Homo sapiens: one gene and its partner. The protein of the gene in region 1 purifies or fractionates together with the protein of each later gene. This does not show direct contact. Each region holds a gene or a part of one and is shown in the gene's direction. Other genes may lie near its edges.

The links.
Region 2: the proteins of LIG1 (region 1) and PRIM1 fractionate together in Homo sapiens (co-fractionation; one large-scale study listed by BioGRID). This does not show direct contact.

Annotation. Positions count from the first base shown.
Region 1 is NC_000019.10:48,160,345-48,163,844, reverse strand, and holds part of LIG1 (DNA ligase 1), read left to right. Parts: intron 1-1,493; coding exon 1,494-1,583; intron 1,584-2,337; coding exon 2,338-2,473; intron 2,474-3,500.
Region 2 is NC_000012.12:56,738,824-56,742,323, reverse strand, and holds part of PRIM1 (DNA primase small subunit), read left to right. Parts: intron 1-486; coding exon 487-578; intron 579-747; coding exon 748-889; intron 890-2,960; coding exon 2,961-3,030; intron 3,031-3,500. UniProt on the Homo sapiens protein: Catalytic subunit of the DNA primase complex and component of the DNA polymerase alpha complex (also known as the alpha DNA polymerase-primase complex - primosome/replisome) which play an essential role in the initiation of DNA synthesis.

The DNA of each region.
Region 1 (3,500 bases):
GCCTCCTGAGTAGCTGGGACTACAGGCGCCTGCCACCACACCCAGCTAATTTTTTTTGTATTTTTAGTAGAAGCAGGGTTTCACCGTGTTAGCCAGGATGGTCTTGATCTCCTGACCTCGTGATCCGCCCACCTCGGCCTCCCAAAGTGTTGGGATTACAGGTGTGAGCCACCATGCCAGGCCCCAACATTTTATATTTAGTTGTTTGCTTAATATTTCTGCCCTTCACCAGAGTGTTAGCTTCTTGAAGGCAGGAACTTCGTGTGTCTGGGTCACTGCCAAACCCCTCAGGCCCAGAACAGGCCCTGGCACATAATAAGTGCTTAGGTAGGCCGGGCGCAGTGGCTCACACCTGTAATCCCAGCACTTTGGGAGGCAGGAGGATCACCTGAGATCAGGAGTTCGAGACCAGCCTGACCAACATGGTGAAACCCCTTCTCTACTAAATGAAAAAAATTAGCCGGGCGTGGTGGCGGCCACCTGTAATCTCAGCTACTCAGGAGGCTGAGGCAGGAGAAACACTTGAAACTGGGAGGCCGAGGTTGCAGTGAGCCGAGATTGCACCATTGCACTCCACCCTTGGGCAACAAGAGTGAAAACTCCATCTCAAAAAAAAAAATTTTTTTAGGCTGGGCGCGGGGGCACATGCCTGTAATCCCAACACTTTGGGAGGCCAGGGTGGGTGGATCACCTAAGGTCAGGAGTTTGAGACTGGCCTGGCCAACATGGAGAAAACCCGTGTCTACCAAAAATACAAAAAAAATTAGCTGGGCGTTGTGGTGGGCACCTGTAATCCCAGCTACTCGGGAGGCTGAGGCAGGAGAATCGCTTGAACCTGGGAGGCAGAAGTTGCAGTGAGCCGAGATCACACCATTGCACTCTAGCCTGGGCAACAGAGCGAGAGTCTGTCTAAAAAAAAAAGATTTAAAAAGTGCATAGTTAATATTTGTTGAATAAAACTTGGGATGTATCATATCTTGCAGGTGCGTTAGGGCAGAAAAATTAGTGTTGCCTCCTTTGTCTGAGTCTGAGTTTCCTTATCAGTTAAGTTAAAGGGCTTATTTGAAATTCTCTGTTATGTGCTGAGATGGAAATGGTGTTAGAAGTTATAGGATGCGGCCGGGCGCGGTGGCTTATGCCTGTAATCCCAGCACATTGGGAGGCCAAGCAGATCACAAGGTCAGGAGATCGAGACCATCCTGGCTAACACGGTGATACCCCATCTCTACTAAAAATACAAAAAATTAGCTGGGCATGGTGGCGGGTGCCTGTAGTTCCAGCTACTTGGGAGGCTGAGGCAGGAGAATGGCATGCACCCAGGAGGCGGAGCTTGCAGTGAGCTGAGATTGCGCCATTGCACTCCAGCCTGGGCTACAGAGCGAGACTCTGTCTCAAAAAAAAAAAAAAAAAAGGAAGTTATAGGATACAGCATAGATAGGCAGGGTATTGGTGCTGTTATTCTCCTTTTTTTACCCCCTTTTATGCTCCTCTAGGTCATTTTTCCACCCCAAGAAAGAGGGTAAAGCAAAGAAGCCTGAGAAGGAGGCATCCAATAGCAGCAGAGAGACGGAGCCCCCTCCAAAGTATGTCACAGGGCTGGGATATGGTGAATTTTTTCCTTTAGCAGTCAGGATTGTCTTGGTTGCAAGTGTTCAAACCTAATGCAAAATGTCTTGGGGCCCAAAAAACTTTTTCAGCCAGGTGGCCAGAAGTCCAAGAGCAAGAGCAGCTGCAGGCACAGCTGGATCCAGGGCCTCGGAGTTGTCTGTACGTCTCTGTTTCTGCAGGTCTTGGCCTCGTTCTAGAACCAGACATTCTCCATAATGCAGAGAAGCTGGCCGCTGGCCACTGGCCACGTCTTGATGCTGTCTCATCTAAGTAGAAGACAACAGTACTCTTTTTTTTTTGAAATGGAGTCTCACTCTCACCCAGGCTGGAGTGCAATGGTGTGATCTCGGCCCACTGCACTCCAGCCTGGGCGACAGAGCAAGATTCCATCTCAAAAAAAAAAAAAAAAAGGCATCCCAATAGATGCTGGAGACCAATGGCAACCTTAGGCAGGGACTCCATTTGCTCCTCAGCATCACCCATCACAGGGCAGGCACTCTGGAGACTTCCAGAGATGTGTGATGGGTGGGTGAGTGGATGAGTGGGCGGGTGGATTAATGCACTGATGGATGAAATGATGAGATTTGCTGAGGAGACAACCAGAAAATGTTCATTGGATGCTTGAAAGGAAGGGAAGGAAACAGCAAAGAAACCAAAGTGTTTGCGGGCAGTGCCCCCACTCTGCCTGCTGTAGTCGCCCCTTTACACCCCCATTTCCCCACCTTCCAGGGCGGCACTGAAGGAGTGGAATGGAGTGGTGTCCGAGAGTGACTCTCCGGTGAAGAGGCCAGGGAGGAAGGCGGCCCGGGTCCTGGGCAGCGAAGGGGAAGAGGAGGATGAAGCCCTTAGCCCTGCTAAAGGCCAGGTAGGTCCCCATCACCCTGCCCATTTTTACCAGAAGAAACTAATTCCCATTAACCTTTGGAACAGAGTGCAGCAGCTGTTCAGGAGAATTCTGGAGAAATTGCCCGGGAGAGGTAGATGTGTTTCCTGGTTGTGTCGGGGGCAGACACAACCTGGTCCTAATTGCCCCTGCCCTAGGACCTCGGGTGGGCTCCTTCACCACGTTAGGTCTTGGATGCCTCAACTGTAACATGCAGCTCCTGGTAACACCTTCCTCATAGGGTGACTGGGAAGATGAAATGAGTCGATTTACATACAGATCTGAGAATAATGCCTGATGGTAAAACAAGGGCTCAAGGCCCAGCACAATGGCTTACGTCTGTAATCCCAGCACGTTGGGAGGCCAACGTGGGAGGATCACTTGAGGCCAGGAGTTCGAGACCAGGCTGGGCAACATAGCGAGACCCCATCTCTACAAAAAAATGTTTTAAAAATTAGCCAGGTGTGGTGGTGCATGCCTGTGGTGCTATCTCCTTGAGAGGCTGAGGCAGGAGGATCGCTTGAGCCCGGGTGTTCAAGGCTGCAGTGAACTGTGATTGTACCACTGTACTCCAGCCGGGGTGACAGAGCAAGACCTTGCTTCAAAAAAAAAAAAGCAAAAAAATAAGGGTTCAAAAGTATATCTAGCCTCTCCTGTGGTCAGAGGGCTTTTTAACTTCTCCAAATACATTGGACCACTCTCTTCCCCTGTTTAAGTCATTTAATGCTTGTTCATTGCTTTGTGGATGATGTCCAAAGCGTGGTGCTGCTTATTCTGTCAGTGGTGAGGTCAGGTCCTGTGACTCCCTGCCCAAACCCCCTGGTATTACCACCACAGGCCAAAGCCAGGCCTTGTGGAAACCTCCCAGGCCCCTCCTGCTGCTCCTCTCTTCCCCCGCCCATCACATCTGCAGCCGCATCCACAGCTCCTCCTCAGCTCGCTCCATCCTGGCTTCCCACACCCACCAGGTGCACTTCCACCTCTGGGCCACTACCTTCTTTCCCAGCCT
Region 2 (3,500 bases), on another chromosome or scaffold:
GCATGAGCCACTGTGCCCGGCCGGATACAGCTGTTGAGTTTAACATTTGTGGGGTGGGTTGTTTTGTTGTTGAGATGGAGTCTCACTCTGTTGCCCAGGCTGTAGCACAGTGGCACAATCTCAGCTCACTGCAACCTTCACCTTGCAGATTTAAGCAATTTTCCTGCCTCAGCCTCCAGAGTAGCTAGGATTACAGATGTGCACCACCATGCCCTGCTGATTTTTCTATTTTTAGTAGAGATGGGGTTTCACCATGTTGGCCAGGCTGGTCTCGATCTCCTGACCTCACGTGATCCACCCACCTCTGCCTCCCAAAGTGCTGGGAGTACAGGCATGAGCCACCACGCCCAGTCAACATTTATATTTCAAGAAATGTTAATAACTACTTTCTGAATATTTGTAAGACACCCTTGTGGTAATACATACTTAAAACTAAATTGTTCATTGATGTTCCCTAAATGAGTCTGTTCCTTAATGACCCATCACCAATTCATGATGAACTTCAACAAAGCTTCCAAAAGTCTCACAATTCACTTCAGCGTTGGGAGCACTTGAAGAAAGTAGCCAGCAGATATCAGGTATATGCCACTGAAATCTGTATTACAGATATAATAATGCAATTCTTAATTAAATTGATTGCTTTGCCTAGTCAGTTAAAGATGGTTGAAGATCGTTTTTTTAACTTTCTTTAAAGAAATCTTCAACAGTTCCTACTGATCCTCATGTTGGCCTTGTATCTGCTTTTAGAATAACATCAAAAATGACAAATATGGACCCTGGCTGGAGTGGGAGATTATGCTCCAGTACTGTTTTCCACGGCTGGATATCAATGTCAGCAAAGGAATCAATCATCTACTGAAGAGCCCTTTTAGTGTTCATCCTAAAACAGGTACTACACAAGGAAACTAAGGAAAACTAAAAGAAAAATGAGTTGCTATTGGCTTTAGTAAGCATGGCATTAGGTCTGAATATATATAATGTCTATGATTTAAAGGTAGAAGAATTGCTCTGTCACCCAATACCTAAGTCAGTTAAGTAGCTACCAGATGAGTTTCTACTATGTAACTGTTTTTCAGTTGGGTTTCTGAGGTTCCATATTAGATTTGGAGAGGACCATCAAAATCTTAGGACAACAGCTCTCATTGTACAGATGAGAAAACAGTGGCCCAAGATGTAACCCATCCAAGGTCATAAAAAAAAAATTGTGTGTGACTGTATGTGGTAGCTTGCTCCTGTAATCCCAGCACTTGAGGAGGGCAAGGTGGGCAAATCACTTGAGCCCCAGAGTCTAACACCAGCCTAGGCCACATGTCTAAACACCCTTTGTACAAAAAATACAAAAATTAGCTAGACGTGGTGGTGCATGCCTGTAGTTCCAGCTACTCAAGAGGCTGAGGCAGGAGGATCACTTGAGCCTGGGAAGTTGAGGCTGCAGTGAGCTGTGATGGTGCCACTGCACTCCAGCCTGGGCAACAGAGTGAGACCCTGTCTCAAAAAAAAGAAAAAAAGAAAGAAATGAAATGAACTCTACTCCTAGCACTGACAAAAACAAAAAAAAATTTTTTTCGAGAAAGAGTCTCACTCTGTCACCCAGGCTGGAGTGCACTGGTGCAATCTCGGCTCACCGATCGGCTCAAGCGATCCTTCTGCCTCACCCTCCTGAGTAGCTGGTACTACAGGCATGTGCTACCACAGCCAGCTAATATTTTGTAGACAGGGTTTTGCCATGTTGCCCAGGTTGGTCTTGAACTCTTGAGCTCAAGCAATTCACCTGCCCCAGTCTCCCAAAGTGCTGGGATTACAGACAAGAGCCACTGCGCCCAGCCTCATTACGTCACTTTTGAGATGTGTTAAATTCTATATGGTATCCTAGGGGGGTATTATAAAAGAGTAGAGGAATTTCTATTTTATTTCCTAAATGCTTTTTAAAGGTGTCTGACATGTGGGTATCTGTATTGATCTCAAATAAACCAAGCCAATGTAAATATTATAGTTTCATCTATTTTGTTCTATTTTCAGGACTCACTAACTCTGAGATTGTTCTGAACTTAAATATGGAATATTTAAATATACTTTATTTCTAAATATAGAAATAAAAGTAGGGATAAGAGCAACTGGGAAATAGCTCAACAGTCTTCACATTTGCTTATTGGTTTTTGTTTTTGTTTTTTTTCTTTCCTTTTTTTTCGAGACAGAGTCCCACTCTGTCACCCAGGCTGGAGTACAGTGGCGCGATCTTGGCTCACTGCAGCCTCTGCCTTCCAGGTTCAAGCAATTCTCTGCCTCACCCTCCCAAGTAGCTGGGATTACAGGTACCCGCCACCACACCCAGCTAATTTTTGTATTTTTAGTAGAGACGGGGTTTCACCATCTTGGCCAGGCTGGTCTTGAACTCCTGACCTTGTGATCCACCCTCCTCAGCCTCCCAGAGTGCTGGGATTACAGGCGTGAGCCACTGCACCTGGCTGGTTTTTTAAAGAGAAATAAAAGGCATGCTGGACATGGTCATTCACACCTGTAATCCCAGCAACTCAGGAGGCTGAGGCAAGAGGATTGTTTGAGGCCAGGAGTTCTGGGCAACATAGTGAGACCCCAACTCAACAAAAATTGAAAAACTGGCCAGGCCAGGAGCAGTAGCTCACGTCTATAATCCTAGCACTTTGGGAGACAACTGAGGTGGGAGGATCACTTGAGCCCAGGACATCAAGCCTGCAGTGAGCTATGACCATGCTACTGTATGTACTCTAGCATGGGTGACAAAGTGAGGCATTAACTCTAAAAAAGAGTAAGGGCACAGCTAATGTGAAAGTAATTTATATTTCTAAATACTCTTCTTAACAGATAAGTTTAACCCTTTGTCTAAGCCTTAAATAAAAATTTTAACCAAAAATAACCTGTAGGAGATGACTATAATGATTTATAGTCCACAATCATCAGTTTATAACTTTTGTGTCTTACAGGTCGCATATCTGTGCCTATTGATTTGCAGAAAGTGGACCAGTTTGATCCATTTACTGTTCCGACCATAAGGTATGTTTCAGATCATTGATCACTCCTTGTTTGTAATTGTTGTTATGAATTTTAAATAAATTGAATTAGCCTCCTTAGAGAAGTAGTTGCATGGGAATGGTATATTTGGTTATGGAAACCAAATAAGGTTCAAAGGTTAGATGACGATGCCCTAATAGAACAATACAAGATTTTCACCTGCTGTTATGTAAGAAAAAGATTTTAAGGTCAAGTAAATTTAGGAAATTCTGACTTAAACAGATTAAAAGTATCTTTTACTACAGTATTTCACAGTCTTTCATATGATAATATGCATGAAAAACTCCAAGAAGAGATCATGGTGTTTAGAATATCCCAAATTTAGCTGGCCGCATAATTTTTTTACAGTAAATTTTATGGGATTCACATGCTATTATACACTGGATAATGCTGATCAGAAACCAACATTAAACTTCTCTTGTTCGTGGTGAGGCGCGGTGGCTCATGCCTGT